Homo sapiens: one gene and its partners. The protein of the gene in region 1 purifies or fractionates together with the protein of each later gene. This does not show direct contact. Each region holds a gene or a part of one and is shown in the gene's direction. Other genes may lie near its edges.

Region 1 (5,472 bases):
TCCGTCTCAAAAAAAAAAAATCATAATTTTTAACATGAGTTTTCGAAAGGACATTCAAACCATAGCAGAAGGTATAAAAGGGGTTCTTGGTTTTTTGGGTTTTTTTTGTTGTTGTTTTCATTTAATTCAAAAACCTGGAAAGTAGCCAGCAGTAGGTTCTGGTTTGGGGGGAAAGACATGGAGAGTATACAACCTTCTGGACACCAGTATTAATAGCTAGCTAAGATTTCATTATTGACTGTCCTTTGCCTTAAGAGCTGGCTATGCACTGAGTAATTTTAAAGCATACAAGATCAGCAGACAAACAGATCAGTTCCCGAGAGTCCTGGTTTTTTCTCTTTATTCACCTGGGTTAGTGGCTCAGTCTGTACTTAGGTTGATAACTAACAATCTGTTCTCTCACTTGGAATTTGGCATCCTTTTGCTCTCTTGAAAACAAAACATGATTAAGTACAATGTAGGATCTGGAGGAGAACAGAGAACATATTAAGGGTGTAGTCAAGTCCTAAAAAAGGATGAGCTTTGATTAAAGATTCTCGGCCAGGCATAGTGGCTCATGCCTATAATCCCAGCACTTTGGGAGGACGAGGCGGGTGGATCATCCAAGGTCAGTAGTTCAAGATCAGCCTGACCAACATGGAGAAACCCCATCTCAACTAAAAATACAAAAAAAAATTAGCCGGGCATGGTGGCGCATGCCTATAATCCCAGCTACTTGGGAGGCTCAGGCAGGAGAATCACTTGAACCCAGGAGGCGGAGGTTGTGGTGAGCCGAGATCGCGCCATTGCACTCTGTCCCAGGCATAAAAAGATACTCATCTCAGTTTTGTGACTTGTTTGGTGACTAAATCCACTTCCCCTCTGTCTCTACTTTCCCATCCACCAAATGAAAGTTAGGAAGAATGCCAACTTAGGAAGAGCTTGGCAAGTGCAGTACTTTAAAAATAATGAAATTATCATGGCCTTTGGATTAACGTATTTGGTTTTGTTTTGTTTTTATTTTCTAGTTATTAAAGAGGGTGTACGGGAGTTTCTTGGTAAATCCAGAATCAGGTATGTAGTCATGTGAGCAACTATGGAATGACATGGGAAGAGAGGTGTCCTTTTTATATTATGCTTTTTTTACCCAAAGGATTTCGTTTAAATATTATTACAAATATTTCTGCATGAGCCCATTCCTAATTTCAACTCCGTCCATAAAAATAGCTTTTAAGGGGCTTTGCTTTGTCCAATATGGAACACAGTAGAGGTACAAAATTGATGTGTGACATTTTTAACATTTACTTGATGGGGCCACATGACTCTTACTTAATCTTTCAGCCAGAGGGCCACATTTGTTTGTTCATGGTGATTAAAATGGCTTTGAAAAGAATGAGCAAACATTGATTCCCACCCTCGGCCCTTAGTAATTCTGCATACTACATATTTGGAGAAAGAAGAGGAATATTCACCACACTATTCTTGTGATTTCAAGTAATAAAAATCAGACCCTTTCTTAATCCAGTCTTCTAATAGGTTGTCTCAACATTCATGGCCAGAGGAATTGAAAGGCACCGTGTCATCCTTGAATAGAACAGCTATGTTATACTGCTTTAAAAAGGAGGTTTAAAGTGGAAAAACTGAACAGCCTTTTTACCCTGTGATTCAGTGGCATGTCTCAAATTCTGAGGCATTTAGCAGGACCCCAAAGTGAGAACCAGGTAGTAAGACCATTGGAACATAATATTTTTTACTCAACTATTACAACTTTGGTACCTTGATTAGAAAAGTCTTCTAAGAAGGAAGTTCTCTGTCACTCTTAACAGCAGTTACTTGTGCTAGCTTATTTCATCACCTCACCTATTTTTTCAGACAGTCTCATTCTGTTGCCCAGGCTGGAATGCAGTGGTACAGTCATAGCTCACTGCAGCCTCCTCCAAATCTTGGGCTCAAGCAATCCTCCCGCTTTAGCCTCTCCGGTAGCTGGGAACTACAGGCACATGCCACCATACCCAATTAATTTTTTTAATATTTTGTAGAAACAGAGTCTCACTGTCTGCTGCCCATACTGCCAAAACAGAGTAAGGAGGTCTCAAACTCCTAGCCTTGAGCAATCTACCCACCTCAGCCTCCGCCTCCCAGAGAGTTGGGATCACAGGCATGAGCCACCATACCCAGCACCTTTTTTTTTTTTAATCTCCAAATTGGCGGGATGAATGTGTCACAGAAATAAAAGCCAAGATAACACTGTAGGCTTTTGGCAAAATCAAGGTATTAAAAGAAAGAAACAAACAGATCTAGAACAGAAAAATCATGTCCAAAGTCTTGGGCATGCTTGTCACAGCCAACATCCTGACATGGAAAGTTTATGTTTCTGTCCCTGGGCCTCCTTCTACCTCCCACTAAATCATAGACATTGCCAGATTGCAGACCCTGTCTTCATAGAAGTGTGAAATGTAAAAGTGTGTGAAAGTAGTGTCTCAACCAGGTGCAGTGGCTCACACCTGTAATCCCAGCACTTTGGGGAGGCCAAGGTGAGTGAATTGCTTGAGCTCAGAAGTTCAGGACCAGCCTGGGCAGCATAATGAGATACCTGTCTCTATAAAAAATACAGAAATTAGCCAGGCATGGTGGCAGCCACCTGTAATACCAGGTACTCAGGTGGCTGAAGCACGAGAATCGCTTGAACCCAGGAGGCAGAGGTTGCAGTGAGCTGAGATTGCGCCACTGCCCTCTAGCCTAGGCGACAGAGCAAGATTCAGTCTCGAGAAAAAAAAAAAAAAGACCGTAGAGTCTCTCCTCCTCTTTTTTAATGGGTTTATCTAGGCACGTTTGGAAAACTCAGCAAGTTATACTAGATTTTTACTTCTCTTCATCCTCAGTATATTCTGTTCATCATGTTAGAAGCCTTACTTAAAGACAGACTTTACCTTAGCTATAGTTTTATTTGCTCTTATTTGGCTTCCTAAAACTAGCAAACCTCAGCTCTAAATCTTTTCTTTTTTAATCTAACCTTGTAATCTGTGTGCTTATTTGGTTTTCAAGTACCCAAAATAGAATGATGATTGATATTATTTAATACTGGAGTGCCTCTCCAGTATTAAATAAAATGTGCTAAGCATTATCTAGAGCAAAGATTTAGCCCATCCTCCCGAAGAGCCCATGCTCAACAAAAAACACAGACCTCAGCCGGGCGCGGTGGCTTATGCCTGTAATCCCAGCACTATCGGAGGCCAGGGCGGGCGGATCACCTGCATTCAGGAGTTCAAGACCAGCATGACCAACATGGAGAAACCCCGTCTCTACTAAAAGTACAAAATTAGCCAGGCCTGGTGGCGCATGCCTGTAATCCCAGCTGCCTAGGAGGCTGAGGCAGGAGAATCGCTTGAACCTGGGAGGCGGATGTTGTGGTGAGCCGAGATCATGCCATTGCACTCCAGCCTGGGCAATAAGAGTAAAACTCCATCTCAAAAAAAAAAAAATACAGATCTCAGGAATGCTTTTGGGAAAAAATGAAATAGTAATGAGGTTTCAGATACTTAGAAGTGTGAAAGCCATACAGTTCTGGTGAAGTTATTCCCGTCAGTTGCCTAGAATATAAAATGATCCTCAGTGATGTAGAAATATTCTTGCAAAAACATCTCTAGGCAGTTTGACACTTATTAATCATTTGATTCTATAATCAAGTGTTCCAGCCGGCTTCTGGGAATTCATAGTGGACATGCTGTAAAAAGGCAGGTCATCCAATGGTTTCAGTCCATGTTCTGCACCCGTATTGATGACCTGTCATGTTCCACACACTTTAAGTATTGAACATTCTTTTAATGCTCACAACATTCTCCCCTATCTCCGCACCCCCTGCCCTGCTCCTTTTTCTTTTTTTCTTTTTTTTTGAGACAGAATTTCACTCTTGTTGCTCAGGCTGGAGTGCCGTGGCGCGATCTCAGCTCATTACAACCTCCACCTCCCGGGTTCAAGCAATTCTCCTGCCTCAGCCTCCGGAGTACCTGGGACCACAGGCGTGTACCACCACACCCAGCTAATTTTGTATTTTTATTAGAGACGGGGTTTTGCCATATTGGCCAGGCAGGTCTCGAACTCCTGACCTCAGGTGATCCACCCACCTTGGCCTCCCAAAGTGCTGGGAATACAGGCTTGAGCCACTGTGCCCAGACCACCCTACCTGCCCCCCACCACCAATTTTTTTTTTTTTTTAACAGATGAGGAAATTAACAAGTCAGGCAATTTTTTTTGTTTTTGTTTTTTTTTTTTGGAGCTGGAGTCTCGCTCTGTTGTGCAGTGGTGCAATATCAGCTCGCTGTAACCTCCACCTCCTGGGTTCAAGCAATTCTCCTGCCTCAGCCTCCCAAGTAGCTAGGATTACAGGCGCCCGCCACCATGCCTGGCTAATATTTGTGATTTTAGTAGAGACAGGGTTTTGCCATGTTGGCCAGACTGCTCTCAAAACTCCTGACCTCAGGTGATCTGCCCACCTTGGCCTCCCAAAATGCTGGGATTACAGGTGTGAGCCACCACACCCAGCAGTTTTTTTAAGGTCACAAAATGACAAGACTAGGATTTGGACCCAGTTCTGTTCGACTCAAAATAGAGTGCCCTACACTTATGTGTCATGCTGCATTTGGCAAGTCACGTCACTTCTTTGAATCTCCTTTTCCCTCTGCAAAACAGTAACCTTATCTAGCCTGCAGACTTCAAAGGTGGTTATGGAGATCAAATGAAGTAAAATGTTTTAAAAATTGTACAATATATACCAATAAAAGCTATTGGGGAGGTATATGTATGAACAGGTAGTTGGTTTTTCTACCCTGCCACCTCATAAAGAGTTTGCAGTGGCACGTAGAAGGGTTTATCTTATTATCACAAAGCTACCCATTTGCTGGCCATACTGATACTTGGCACATTAAACTATCAGAGAAATATATGTGGCTCCTTTACAACTGTGTCTAGAAGGGTACATTTCCAATCAGAGTTCCCAGGTTCTGACTTTCTCCCATTACATATTTGTAATTAGTCATCTTTGATACTGATTCAAATTTTTGATTAACATTAATTATATATATTTACAAGAATCTTATAAAAATTAAGATTTTATTTCACCTCATTTTGCCCTGTGAGATAGATGGAAATAGACTATATTCTACCCAGGTTAAAAGTACAGATAATGAGACAAAATGTCAATAGAACCTGAAAAAAGATTTTTTTAGTTGCCTCTAGTCTCTGTTTACTTGGTATAGATAGTATGCTGCTTTTTTTTTTTTTTTTTTTTTTAAATGTAACTGCTGGGTTGTTTTTTGTTTCTTGTTTTTTCTTTCCCTCCAGGATACAATGTCTCTTTGCTATATGACCTTGAAAATCTTCCGGCATCCAAGGATTCCATTGTGCATCAAGCTGGCATGTTGAAGCGAAATTGTTTTGCCTCTGTCTTTGAAAAATACTTCCAATTCCAAGAAGAGGGCAAGGAAGGAGAGAACA
Region 2 (4,953 bases), on another chromosome or scaffold:
CAAAGCTGTCAGACAGGGACATTTAAGTCTGCAGAGGTTACTGCTGTCTTTTTGTTTGTCTGTGCCCTGCCCCCAGAGGTGGAGCTTACAGAGGCAGGCAGGCCTCCTTGAGCTGTGGTGGGCTCCACCCAGTTCGAGCTTCCCAGCTGCTTTGTTTACCTAAGCAAGCCTGGGCAATGGCGGGCGCCCCTCCCCCAGCCTCACTGCCACCTTGCAGTTTGATCTCAGACTGCTGTGCTAGCAATCAGCGAGACTCCGTGGGCGTAGGTCCCTCCAAGCCAGGTGCAGGATATAATCTCCTGGTGCGCCGTTTTTTAAGCCCGTGGGAAAAGCGCAGTATTCGGGTGGGAGTGACCTGATTTTCCAGGTGCCGTCTGTCACCCCTTTCTTTGACTAGGAAAGGGAACTCCCTGACCCCTTGCGCTTCCTGAGTGAGGCAATGCCTTGCCCTGCTTCGGCTCGCACACGGTGCGTGCACCCACTGACCTGCGCCCACTGTCTGGCACTCCCTAGTGAGATGAACCTGGTACCTCAGATGGAAATGCAGAAATCACCCGTCTTCTGTGTCCCTCACGCTGGGAGCTGTAGACCGTACCTGTTCCTATTCGGCCATCTTGGCTTCTCCTCTTATCCCAGAAATTTCTTAAGTATTTTGTTGACCTGCATACTTCCTTGAATCAAAATGTTGAGGTTAATAGCTAACCTACTGCTTGCTGCTTCTTCTAGCACTATTATATTTTAGGAACCTAATGGCATCTAAGGATTTCACCGTGTAATAACAGTGGGAATTTATTTTTCTTGGTGTTTGGAAACTCTCAGGAATTTTTTTTTCCTTTTTCTTATTTTTCTCTCCCTCTCAATTATAGGTTGAAGCTCCATTCATACCAAAGTTTAGAGGCTCTGGAGATACCAGCAACTTTGATGACTATGAAGAAGAAGATATCCGTGTCTCTATAACAGAAAAATGTGCAAAAGAATTTGGTGAATTTTAAAGAGGAACAAGATGACATCTGAGCTCACACTCAGTGTTTGCACTCTGTTGAGAGATAAGGTAGAGCTGAGACCGTCCTTGTTGAAGCAGTTACCTAGTTCCTTCATTCCAACGACTGAGTGAGGTCTTTATTGCCATCATCCCGTGTGCGCACTCTGCATCCACCTATGTAACAAGGCACCGCTAAGCAAGCATTGTCTGTGCCATAACACAGTACTAGACCACTTTCTTACTTCTCTTTGGGTTGTCTTTCTCCTCTCCTATATCCATTTCTTCCTTTTCCAATTTCATTGGTTTTCTCTAAACAGTGCTCCATTTTATTTTGTTGGTGTTTCAGATGGGCAGTGTTATGGCTACGTGATATTTGAAGGGAAGGATAAGTGTTGCTTTCAGTAGTTATTGCCAATATTGTTGTTGGTCAATGGCTTGAAGATAAACTTTCTAATAATTATTATTTCTTTGAGTAGCTCAGACTTGGTTTTGCCAAAACTCTTGGTAATTTTTGAAGATAGACTGTCTTATCACCAAGGAAATTTATACAAATTAAGACTAACTTTCTTGGAATTCACTATTCTGGCAATAAATTTTGGTAGACTAATACAGTACAGCTAGACCCAGAAATTTGGAAGGCTGTAGATCAGAGGTTCTAGTTCCCTTTCCCTCCTTTTATATCCTCCTCTCCTTGAGTAATGAAGTGACCAGCCTGTGTAGTGTGACAAACGTGTCTCATTCAGCAGGAAAAACTAATGATATGGATCATCACCCAGATTCTCTCACTTGGTACCAGCATTTCTGTAGGTATTAGAGAAGAGTTCTAAGTTTTCTAAACCTTAACTGTTCCTTAAGGATTTTAGCCAGTATTTTAATAGAACATGATTAATGAAAGTGACAAATTTTAAATTTTCTCTAATAGTCCTCATCATAAACTTTTTAAAGGAAAATAAGCAAACTAAAAAGAACATTGGTTTAGATAAATACTTATACTTTGCAAAGTCAAAAATGGCTTGATTTTTGGAAACAATATAGAGGTATTCATATTTAAATGAGGGTTTACATTTGTTTTGTTTTGTAACCGTTAAAAAGAAGTTGTTTCCAGCTAATTATTGTGGTGTACTATATTTGTGAGCCTAGGGTAGGGGCACTGCTGCAACTTCTGCTTTCATCCCATGCCTCATCAATGAGGAAAGGGAACAAAGTGTATAAAACTGCCACAATTGTATTTTAATTTTGAGGTATGATATTTTCAGATATTTCATAATTTCTAACCTCTGTTCTCTCAGTAAACAGAATGTCTGATCGATCATGCAGATACAATGTTGGTATTTGAGAGGTTAGTTTTTTTCCTACACTTTTTTTTGCCAACTGACTTAACAACATTGCTGTCAGGTGGAAATTTCAAGCACTTTTGCACATTTAGTTCAGTGTTTGTTGAGAATCCATGGCTTAACCCACTTGTTTTGCTATTTTTTTCTTTGCTTTTAATTTTCCCCATCTGATTTTATCTCTGCGTTTCAGTGACCTACCTTAAAACAACACACGAGAAGAGTTAAACTGGGTTCATTTTAATGATCAATTTACCTGCATATAAAATTTATTTTTAATCAAGCTGATCTTAATGTATATAATCATTCTATTTGCTTTATTATCGGTGCAGGTAGGTCATTAACACCACTTCTTTTCATCTGTACCACACCCTGGTGAAACCTTTGAAGACATAAAAAAAACCTGTCTGAGATGTTCTTTCTACCAATCTATATGTCTTTCGGTTATCAAGTGTTTCTGCATGGTAATGTCATGTAAATGCTGATATTGATTTCACTGGTCCATCTATATTTAAAACGTGCAAGAAAAAAATAAAATACTCTGCTCTAGCAAGTTTTGTGTAACAAAGGCATATCGTCATGTTAATAAATTTAAAACATCATTCGTATAAAATATTTTAATTTTCTTGTATTTCATTTAGACCCAAGAACATGCTGACCAATGTGTTCTATATGTAAACTACAAATTCTATGGTAGCTTTGTTGTATATTATTGTAAAATTATTTTAATAAGTCATGGGGATGACAATTTGATTATTACAATTTAGTTTTCAGTAATCAAAAAGATTTCTATGAATTCTAAAAAATATTTTTTTCTATGAAATTACTAGTGCCCAGCTGTAGAATCTACCTTAGGTAGATGATCCCTAGACATACGTTGGTTTTGAGGGCTATTCAGCCATTCCATTTTACTCTCTATTTAAAGGCCGTGAGCAAGCTTGTCATGAGCAAATATGTCAAGGGAGTCAATTTCTGACCAATCAAGTACACTAAATTAGAATATTTTTAAAGTATGTAACATTCCCAGTTTCAGCCACAATTTAGCCAAGAATAAGATAAAAACTTGAATAAGAAGTAAGTAGCATAAATCAGTATTTAACCTAAAATTACATATTTGAAACAGAAGATATTATGTTATGCTCAGTAAATAATTAAGAGATGGCATTGTGTAAGAAGGAGCCCTAGACTGAAAGTCAAGACATCTGAATTTCAGGCTGGAAAACTATCAGTATGATCTCAGCCTCAGTTCTCTTGTCTGTAAAATGGAAGAACTGGATTAGGCAGTTTGTAAGATTCCTCCTAACTTTCACAGTCGATGACAAGATTGTCTTTTTATCTGATATTTTGAAGGGTATATTGCTTTGAAGTAAGTCTCAATAAGGCAATATATTTTAGGGCATCTTTCTTCTTATCTCTGACAGTGTTCTTAAAATTATTTGAATATCATAAGAGCCTTGGTGTCTGTCCTAATTCCTTTCTCACTCACCGATGCTGAATACCCAGTTGAATCAAACTGTCAACCTACCAAAAACGATATTGTGGCTTATGGGTATTGCTGTCTCATTCTTGGTATATTCTTGTGTTAACTGCCCATTGGCCTGAAAATACTCATTGTAAGCCTGAAAAAAAAAATCTTTCCCACTGTTTTTTCTGCTTGTTGTAAGAATCAAATGAAATAATGTATGTGAAAGCACCTTGTAAACTGTAACCTATCAATGTAAAATGTTAAGGTGTGTTGTTATTTCATTAATTACTTCTTTGTTTAGAATGGAATTTCCTATGCACTACTGTAGCTAGGAAATGCTGAAAACAACTGTGTTTTTTAATTAATCAATAACTGCAAAATTAAAGTACCTTCAATGGATAAGACAATTGATTGAGTCGTGAATTCTACTTGGTGCCCTCATCTCCTGATTTATTTTCCGCTGATACAAGAGATGCTTATAGATTCCTAGTTTTTATGTGTTTGGGTTGATTTCTGGGTGGTGGGAGCAGAGCACATTGGGGAGGAATATATCCGCCAGTCTACTCACACTGGATGTTTACTAAGAAACTGCTAGATTCATTTAATAGTTTCTCAAAAGTGTTTCTACTTCTTTCTCATTTCTCATATTGGTTCAGATTACTGCTAACATAATGTTCTAAATATTCATATTTAAAGGATTTGATTCTTCAAGAGCACTCATCCTTCTATTGTAACAATGAAATATTAATTTCTAATTTTTTCTTCAGGAGTGTTTTTGAGCTTCACATTACCTCTTTTCATTTTAGACAGGTTAATTAGTGTGTATTTCCATAGTTGTCTTTTACCTCAAGAAATAATCATTTCTTTAGGTAATTATTTTAATGGCTTGCCATTTTGTATGATTGTTCTTGCAAACATTTCTATTTATGCATTTTATAACATGGAGCTTACTATTTTTATACCAGTGCTCGCTTCATTTTATCATTATCAGGGCTTAATATAAATGCAGTTTTCTCATTTCCTTGTAAAACTAATTACAAAAATCTAGGTATGTCTTTACTGAAGAACTATCATCATTTGAAATCTATTTAGCTGTAAATTTTCTCTTGTGCACAAATACTGGATGTGAAGTTAAGTACTTTTCATTTAAGCTTTCCTGAAGATTTTCCATATGC
Region 3 (5,525 bases), on another chromosome or scaffold:
GAGGGGCTTTCCAGTAGGGCTTTTCTATGTTTTTCCTTCTCAGACATACACCGGGCAGCCAGGTAGGCCAGCTAGGAGTGGGGCTGACTCATCCATTAGGCCCATCATACTTTTAGCGGTCCACAAAATGTTTTTATTCTTTTAAAATTTAAATTTAATTTCATTAATTTTTTTTAATAGACAGGGTTTCGCTATGTTGCCTAGGCTGGACTCAAACTCCTGGGCTCAAGTGATCCTCCCACTTCAGCCTCCTGAGTAGCTGGGACTACAGGTGCTCTTTCTTCCTAAAAATATGTTTAGTAATGGATGATTGGATGCAGAAAAAAAAATATATGTTTAGGTTGAAGAAAACACTTTAGACTGGGAGCAGTGGCTCAGGCCTGTAATCCTAGCACTTTGGGAGGCAGAGGCAGGTGGTGACATGAAGTCAGGAGCTTGAGACCAGCCTGGCCAACATGGTGAAACCCCATCTCTACTAAAAATACAAAAATTAGTCGGGTGTGGTGGTGAGTGCCTGTAATCCCAGCTACTCAGGAGGCTGAGGCAGGAGAATCACTAGAACCTGGGAGGCAGAGGTTACAGTGAGCCAAGATTCACCACTGCACTCCAGCCTGGGCAACATAGGAAGACTGTCTCAAAAAAAAAAAAAAAAAAATATATATATATATATATAATTCATATATTCATCTTTATGCCAACCCAGTGGTAAGATAATAATTTTTTAAAAAATTTTTAATGGAGAAAGGGTCCTTTGAAAACAAAAGTGCCTAGGACCCAAGAAAGTCATTGTCTGTGTGTGTGTGTGTGTGTGTGTGTGTGTGTGTGTGTGTGTAGCAGGGAAGGGAGAGGGTGCTTTCTTCTTCCAACATTGACAGCTCATGCTAGACTCCTAGGCACCTGCCTGGCCACCACCCCCTTTAAATGCCGCCCCCTCTCCCGGGGTACACCTGGCCTCCCTGAATGGGCCCACCTGCCCCGAGGCCTGGCACGAAGAAGCCAAACAAAAGAACAAAGATTCCTCAACAATCCCAGGGTCAGAAGAATCTTCTGTACCAGGCTTGGAAAATGCACCTGCGGACTATGACATACTTGGGCAAAGGGCATTGTGGGGCCAGGGAGGAGTTCAGGAGCTGTGCAGGAAGAAGGAGGGAGGGCAATGCTATGTTGTAGAAAGGGTGAGCTCATTAAACTTTACAATCCCCCTGATACTGACCCCATTTTACAGACGAAGAAGCATGGGCTCAGAGAGGTTGAGGAGCTTGCCCAAGCTCACAGCTGGGATTCAAACTTAGGCGTCTTTGGTCCGACACCCATGCCCCAGCTCCCTCGTCACAGATCCCTGGGATACCTGACTCAGCCATTGTAGGGCCGCGGGCGGGGCATAATGGACAGCTTCTAAGCTGACCACCCAATCCTCCCCAGTGGCTGTTCTCCATTCCTGCTTCCCAGAAACCCATCCTTCCCGGGCTGATCCTACAAAGGATCTTCTATAATAGGATCTTGGGGCCTCAATTTCCCTTTTGTGCGTGTGCTGGGGCAGGGATCTTCCTCTAGGAATGAGGAAGAGAGAGAGACAAGAGAAAAGCATGGCCTTTCTGCCCCACTGTGCTAAGCCCCCAGCCAGGGTCCTCCCGGAAGCCCAACTCCTGCCGCGCGCGGCCTGGCGTGCAGGAATGGAGCTCGGTCCCTTTAAATCCCGCCGAGGAACGCCTGAGGGCCGGGCCGCGCCATTCCCGGATCCGCCGGCTGGGAATCGCGGGTCCCCGCGCGTCCTGCAGCACTTCCCGCGCCGCGCCCCCAGCCCAGTGCGCCGGCTCTGTGCCGGGGTGCCCGGGCGGTCGGGAGAATGAGCCGCATCTACCACGACGGCGCGCTCCGGAACAAGGCGGTGCAGAGCGTCCGGCTGCCAGGGGCCTGGGACCCCGCCGCCCACCAGGGGTAGGCCTGGGCTCACGGCCTCGGGTCGGCCTCCCCTGCCCCGGCTCGAACCCCGCAACAGGATCGGGTGGGGGGGTGGGATGCGGGTGGGGGAAAACTGGGGTTGCCAAAGCCGCCTCTCCGCCTTCAGTCCGCCCCTCCAGTCCGCCGCTCCCGGCGCCCCTGCCGCCGCGCCCGCCCAGCGACCCCATGACACAGATCGGCTTAAAGCTCCCCGCCTGTCCGCCTGCCCTCGAGAGAGGGTCCCGACCCCCAGACAGGTCTCCGAAGGCTGGGCTTCGCCTCACGCCGACCTCCGGCCCCACCCCACCCGCGTAACTATAAACTCCAGCTACTTGCCGCGCTGCTTTTGCACAGACTCATGCCCTGCCCCAGAAGGGACAGTGGCCGTGCTGTGGCGGGAACAGCGGGCGGGCTGGTCCAGAGCAGGGCCTGCCTGGGTGAGGAGGATTTGGAGGGCCAGGCCCTGTCGTCACAGGGTTATGAGGCCGAAGGGACCATTCCATTTACAACTGCGCTGAAGAATTGTGCTAAGTGAAATAAGCCAGATACAGAAAGACAAATACTGTGTGATCTCGTATATGGAACCTATAAAAGCGTTGAACCATAGAAACGGCAGAACAGACCAGGCGCTGTGGTTCACGCCTGTAATCCCAGCACTTTGGGAGGCCGAGGCGGGTGGATCACTTGAGGTTAGGAGTTTGAGACCAGCCTAATGGTGAAACCCTGTCTGTACTAAAAATACAAAAATTAGTCGGGCGTGGTGGCAGATACCTGTAATCCCAGCTATTTGGGAGGCTGAGGCATGAGAATCGCTTGAACCTGGGAGGTGGAGGTTGCAGTGAGCCGAGATTGTGCCACTGCACTCCATCCTGGGCGATGGAGCAAGACTGTGTCAAAAGAAAAGAAACAGTAGAACAGTGAACAGTGATTGCCAGGGGATAGTGGATGGGGATGGGGTAATGATCAAAGGTACAAACTTTCAGTTATAGAATAAACAATTTCTGGGGACCTAATGTACAGCATGGGGTCTGGTGGGTGTGTTCATTAATCTGTGGTAATCATTACATAGTGTGTACTTAAATCATCACGTTGTGCACCTTGAATATATACAGTCTTTTGTCAGTTAAATATTTAGAAAAATAATTGTGGGGGGTGGGGAAGAATTGGATAGAGACCAGCTAGGTAGAGTTTTCACTTCCCACTCCCATCCCTATTCCACTGTCATCTTCAGCTGTCCCCATGCTTCTCCATTTCTGTGGATGCAAAAAAGGAAGCCTCCACGTTCTGCTTTTATGAAAACCAGAGTCGAGAAGCCAGGGGTCCACTTCCCCTCAGTGAAGGACCGTGTGATCTTGGACTAGTCTCAGACTTCTGAGTTTTGGTTTCTTCACCTCTCAGTAATAACCATTTCCTCGGGTTAATGACCACCTGGATATGAATGAGAAAAGGAATATGAGAGTGTTTAAAAACAGGTGGAAAGGGAAAATAGTTTATTGCAGCTTAGATACCTACCCTCACATTTGGACCAATAAAAAAGTAAAATCTTTTGTATTTAGTAATCACTTAATAGCTTACAAAACACCTTCACACACATGATCTTGTGTCAACATCAGAGGAGCAGAGTGAGGCAGCTGTTTTCCTCCCCATTTTGTAGATAAGACTGAGGCTCTGGTTCCAGTAACTCCCAGTGGCCTTGTAGGAGGGGGCCATAGCTTGATCTTAGGGCAGCCTGACAAGGTTCCTCCTGGCATCTGGGCAATGCCCCAGCCTTTGGGACCCTTTGGAGATCCCTATGTCGGAAGCACGGGGAAAGGAGCTGCTCAGTACCCAGCCTTCTCAGGGCTGGGTAAATAGGAGACACGGGTGAGATTTGCTGAGGACTGACAAAACTGGCTATCCTTTCTTTCCCTTTCATCCCCAGGGGAAATGGTGTCCTGCTGGAGGGAGAACTGATCGATGTATCTCGGCACAGCATCTTGGACACTCATGGCAGGAAGGTGAGGATGCTTCCTCGGTGCTAGCTAGAGGGCACTGACTTCACGGTCATCATCCACTGTGGCATCTCCTTGTGCTGGGTCCTTCCAGTGCCATGAGTTGGGATTCTTGATGGGCTTAGAAAGCAAGTGGGAAGTAGGTCAGGAGATTTATAGCCAAATGGGACCACCAGCTGGAAGAATAGTTTAAGGCTGTGTTGAGCAGCAGACAGGTGGGAGGGCCTGTGTTCTTGCCAGAAGAGCCTGGGTCATGGCTGAGAAGGCAGACCAGGCCCTAAACCCCAGTCTTGCCTGAATGTAAACTCTGACAGTGTCTGGGGCTTCAGTTCCCATGTTGATGTCCTGGCTGCCTTTGCCCTCTCAGCCTCCTGGGGTCATGTCCTGTATCACCACCCCATCTCAGGTGTCTGTGGGTACACCTGGCATTTACCATCCAGTACTAGCCTGTGTCTTTTTTCGGAGCGCTAGTTCCGACTTTCCACTCCCCCTTCAAATAGCCCCACCTAGATGTGCTGACCACCTTATCTCCTTGATCTCTATAACTGAGCTTGGTCTCTAAAAATGCCCCCTCCAGTAGGGCCAGAGGCCTGGTGCTACATGGAGCCTGCATGTCCCTCCTGTACCCCATGAGAACAGCTCAGCACTATTTTCATGTCAGGCGGTATTTTGCTGCACCCTCCCCTCCTTAGCACACAGTGGGCAGGTGGGAACACCCATCAGAGCCCCTAGCTAGCCTGCCCAGGAGAGCCCAGCAGTGTCTCCATGCTGATGTGGGGCTTGCTTGCCTCATCTGCCGTCAGGCAGGGCCTTCTCCTAGCCCCTCTTAAAACTTGCCTCCTCTGAGTTCCATTCCTGGTGATGGTGCAGTTGCCCTCCCAGCCACCGGGCTGGGAACCCTCACTGTCTCCTCCCCAGGTAAGCAATGCCAGGCCCTGCTGGCATTGGGCCCTTGCCCATTCCTCCCCCTCCCTTGCCTTCCCTTCCTCTTTCCATGGCTGCTTACCTGAGATGGGCCCTCAGCCTGTCCTGATAAAACCTTGCACCTGTCCCCCTGCCTTCTGGCTGTCCCCAGAACTCATCCCTGCCCTGCTGCCAATAGGACAAATGTCTTTCCAGAAATACATCTCTGAGGGTCTCACTGCTGCTCAGAAACCTTTCAGGATTCCTTGTCCATCAAATAAAATCCAAACTCCGAATGCCAACTCAAGACCTGTCCTGAACCAAGCCCACTTGCTTTCCCAGCCTGGGCTCCCAGAAGGCCTCCAGGTGCCCTGCGTGGCTCAAACATGCACAAGGGCCTCTTGGCTTTTATTTCCTATACTGTCCCAGGCTTTTAATATTATTCCTACAGCTTCTTATTCCCACAGTTGGCAGACCTCCCTACCCTCCAAGACTTCATCTTTCTTGATTCCACCAGGATGTGGCCTCCTATTCTTCAGGCCCTGGGAGCATTTCACCCACCTGCCTTGAACAACTGGCAAACAGCACTTATAGCACAGTTCACGCTTGGCACTGTGCTTGCCCCTCTGTTATCTCATTGAACCCTCATAATATTCTTAAACACAGACATCACGTTATCCCCATGTGATG
Region 4 (3,920 bases), on another chromosome or scaffold:
TTCTAAAATGTGGATGTTTAACAGAGCACAGCTGATTGGGAACACTGGCAGTTCAATGCAGCTGGAGTGTCTCACAGGGTGAAGAGGAACCCAGATCAAGTGGGAAATAGGGATTTCAAAAACCTTCTGAAAGGCTTTTAACATCAGGGCAAAGGTTTTACAGTGTTGTACTTTATATTCTTAATTTAAGCTTATCAACGGGGAGGATTCACATTGAAATGTCTGTTTTGCTAATGTAACAAGGAATAAAATAATTTATGACACAGCAAAAACTGGGGGCTATTTACAACCCCACCCTGCCTTGTGAGGATGCTGGGTCCTAAGGAAGGTCCTAGGTTTGCTAAATAGAGTAATGGGAATAGGAAACTGAAAGTTTACTTGCTTTGCGTAAGATAATATATTGCGGCAGGGAAGGGGTACAAGAAGATAAGAGCTAGAACCTGTGAGAAGGGAAAGAAGTGATAAAATAATTTTGGCTAAAATAAAGCAAGTTCTCAGGCCAGGCGTGGTGGCTCATGCCTGTAATCCTAGCACTTTGGGAGGCCAAAGTGGGAGGAATGCTTGAGGCCAGGAATTGGAGACCAACCAGGGCAGCATGTCAAGACCTGGTCTCTACAAGGAAAAAAAATTTTTTTAATTGACCAGTATATACTTACATACCTGCAGTGTTTAGAAAACCCGACTATAGGTGGTGTATTCCTGTAGTCCTAGTTACTCAGAAAGTTAAGGCAGGAGGATCGCTTGAACTTAGGAGGTCAAGGCTGCAGTGAGCCCTGTTCGTTCCACTGCACTCCAGCTTGGGGGACAGAGCAAAACCCTTTCTCAAGAAAAACCCAAACAAACAAAAAAGTGAAGCCAGTTCTTTAATTTCTATTGGAGATATCACACACGCTCCAAAGAGTGGCAAAGGTGAACATTCTTTGGAGCTATTATATTTCTAATGTAACATCAATGGCCATTTACTCCCAAAGGGAAACATCTTTTTTTTTTTTTTTTTTTAAGATGGAGTCTGGCTCTGTCACCCAGGTGGGAGTGCAATGGCAGGATCTTGGCCCACTGCAACATCAGCCTCCCAGGTTTAAGCAATTCTCCTGCATCAGCCTCCAGAGTAGCTGGGATTACAGGTGCCCGCCACCATGGCTAGCTAAATTTTTGTAATTTTTAGTAGAGACAGGGTTTTACCATGTTGGCCAGGCCGGTCTCGAACCCCTAACCTCAAGTGATCCGCCCGCCTCACCCTCCAGAAGTGCTAGGATTACAGGCCTGAGCCACCGCACCCGGCCCTGCTATTTTTTTCTATGTAGTTGTTTCAGTAATACCATATGAGCAGAGAATACTATTGATTCATTCAATTGAAGAAATCTGAATAAATTAGTAAATATAATAATTCTTCAAAAGAGGACCACTTTATGTTTCCAATAGATTATATAATTGAATTCAGGTAACGTAGAGTTATTCAGACTTTTTTTTTTAAATAACGGAATTTTGCAAAAAAACAGGTTGCATCGTTTTCTACAGAGAATATTCAGATGTGTAGAGGCAAAGAGACTTTCTTGAAAGGTTTTTATTTCCTGTTAAATTTGTGAGGAAAACTCCTGAGAAAGGAAAGATTTACTTTTGAAGGAAGAAAGAACATAACCCAAAGAAATTTGAAAGATTCAAAAAGAGTTTTCCAAATGTATTCTCATTTCTTTCTCATATTTGTTCAAGGTCTTAGTTTCCAAGCATTCAAAATTAAATCTTGTTTGCCTAACTCTTCTAACATCTATTACCAACCTAACATATTACAATTCTGTTTAAAATGTGCAGTTCTAAATGTTCTTGCGTGCCTCACTGTGGAAAGTGTGGTGCATGGAACTGCAGCGTCAGTATCACCCAGAAGTATAATTACAAGAAGTGCAGAGTCCTTGGCCTTACCCTGTACCTACAGAAGTCCGCTTTTGGGCAAGATCCCCAGATGATTCATATGTGTATTAATATTGAAAAAATTGGAACTAGTAAGTCCTAGAGGAGGTAAATTTTAAGGGCTTTTTAAGGGAACTTCCAAGTGTGAAGACATTTCTGGAGATGACAAGTCAACATAGCATGGGATCTTGGCTAGACAAGGAAAGCGAGAGAACATTAAATAAACACAAGCAACGACAAACCACCTATGTTATAATTTTATCCTGGACCATCCAAAGTTTACTCTTGGTCACGCTGTCTAACCCAGCCTGCCTCCTGGCACTTGCTAGTTAGAACCAGGGAAGAGAAAACTAATATGTGTTAGGTATTATAATTTCCTTATGTCACATAAATTTTGGTGCCATAGCTAGCAATGTTTCTTAATATCACATCAGTACAATGTGTCCATTGCCTTCTGTAACATTTTTAATGCTATCAATAATACATTGACATTATAAAAATAAATGAATGTGGTCAATATTTTGCAAAGAGCTTCTCTTCATCAGCTATATCTATACACCTGCAGTGTTTAGAAAGCCTGACTACAAAAACTGGCTCTACTGCTTATGTCTTGCTCTACTTGCTTATTCTACCCATGGTAGAATTATATAGTCATATTGTGTCCGGAGTTGGTTCCTTCCAGTGGGTTCATGGTCTCACTGACTTCAAGAATGGAGCCACGGACCTTTGCGGTGTTACAACTCTTAAAAATGGCACAGACCCAAAGAGTAAGGAGCAGTAAGAGTGAAAACAAAGCTTCCACAGGTGGAAGCAAACCCCAGTGGGATGCCTCTGCTGGCTTGGGGGTGGCCAGCTTTTATTCCCTTATTTGTCCCCTCCCATGTTCCATTTTTGTCCTATCAGAGTGCCTTTTTTCAATCCTCCCTGCGATTGGCTACTTTTAGACTCCTGCTGATTGGTGCATTTTACAGAGCACTGATTGGTGCATTTTACAGAGCGCAGTTTGGTGCATTTTACAATCCTCTTGCTAACTACAGAGCACTGATTGGTGTGTTTTACATTCCTAGCTACAGAGTGCTAATTGGTGCATTTTACAAACCTCTTGCTAGCTGCAGAATGCTGATTGGTGCGTTTTACAATCTTAGCTACAGAACGCTGATTGGTGCGTTTTACAATCCTAGCTACAGAGTGCTGATTGGTGCATTTTACAATCCTCTTGTAAGACAGAAAAGTTCTCCAAGTCCCCACTCGACCCAGGAAGTCCAGCTGGCTTCACCTCTCAATATTACATCTGCTTTCATGACCGGAAAATGGAGATTGGAATAGTTTCTACTTTACAGGGTGGTTGTGAAGATTAAATGAGCTAAATTTTACAAAGAATTTATTCCAGTTCTTGGCCCCCATTAAACATTCTAAGAGCAATGAGCAGAATTTTCTAAGTCACCCCAGGCTATCTGGGCCATAACTTAGGTGGGACAGACCTCTCACACCTTCCCAGTGGAAGGGTCTGTGCATGCAATTCCAACTTCACTGAAGAAGCAGGCTTCCACCCATTGACATTCCTCCTAAACCATGATCTCCAGGTGTTTGGCAGATAATATTTCTAGATGACTTCTGTGAACAGCTGACACCCTATATCCAGTTTTCTTGGTGCCAAGTAATCTGATTACTGATGAGGCTGGTTTTTCCTCTCTGTCCTGTAAATGGTAAAATATCAGGAAGCCAGTATCCTCAACTAGCACCTCAGCCCCAGCAAGCTTCTCCATGAAAAGAGAGTGTTGTATCATGAGCCTACTTCTTAACATATATCACATGACAGTAAAATTTGTCCTGAAGCCTAGTGCGAGAGAAGTTTAGGTCCAAGTAGGACATAATGTATGACATGCTGGATGTCATGCATGTCTTACTATAGCATCTATGACATGCTGTATTAAACATTATTATAATCACATCTTTTGAACAATTAGAATCTGCAATTGAGTGCAATAGTCATCTTGTCGTTTGTAAACTTGATA

What was found.
Region 2: the proteins of ARPC2 (region 1) and PRKACB fractionate together in Homo sapiens (co-fractionation; one large-scale study listed by BioGRID). This does not show direct contact.
Region 3: the proteins of ARPC2 (region 1) and ARPIN purify together in Homo sapiens (co-immunoprecipitation; one study listed by IntAct). This does not show direct contact.
Region 4: the proteins of ARPC2 (region 1) and HCN1 purify together in Homo sapiens (co-immunoprecipitation; one large-scale study listed by IntAct). This does not show direct contact.

The regions. Positions count from the first base shown.
Region 1 is NC_000002.12:218,233,345-218,238,816, forward strand, and holds part of ARPC2 (actin-related protein 2/3 complex subunit 2), read left to right. Parts: intron 1-1,007; coding exon 1,008-1,053; intron 1,054-5,319; coding exon 5,320-5,472. UniProt on the Homo sapiens protein: Actin-binding component of the Arp2/3 complex, a multiprotein complex that mediates actin polymerization upon stimulation by nucleation-promoting factor (NPF).
Region 2 is NC_000001.11:84,234,314-84,239,266, forward strand, and holds the end of PRKACB (cAMP-dependent protein kinase catalytic subunit beta), read left to right. Parts: intron 1-866; coding exon 867-992; 3' UTR 993-4,185; downstream 4,186-4,953. UniProt on the Homo sapiens protein: Mediates cAMP-dependent signaling triggered by receptor binding to GPCRs.
Region 3 is NC_000015.10:89,909,157-89,914,681, reverse strand, and holds the start of ARPIN (arpin), read left to right. Parts: upstream 1-1,729; 5' UTR 1,730-1,846; coding exon 1,847-1,938; intron 1,939-1,994; exon of another isoform or gene 1,995-2,630; intron 2,631-3,862; coding exon 3,863-3,938; intron 3,939-5,525. Other genes in the region: ARPIN-AP3S2 (uncharacterized protein LOC100526783), read left to right, coding at 1,847-1,938, 3,863-3,938. UniProt on the Homo sapiens protein: Regulates actin polymerization by inhibiting the actin-nucleating activity of the Arp2/3 complex; the function is competitive with nucleation promoting factors.
Region 4 is NC_000005.10:45,253,452-45,257,371, reverse strand, and holds the end of HCN1 (potassium/sodium hyperpolarization-activated cyclic nucleotide-gated channel 1), read left to right. Parts: 3' UTR 1-2,424; downstream 2,425-3,920. UniProt on the Homo sapiens protein: Hyperpolarization-activated ion channel that are permeable to sodium and potassium ions. Displays lower selectivity for K(+) over Na(+) ions.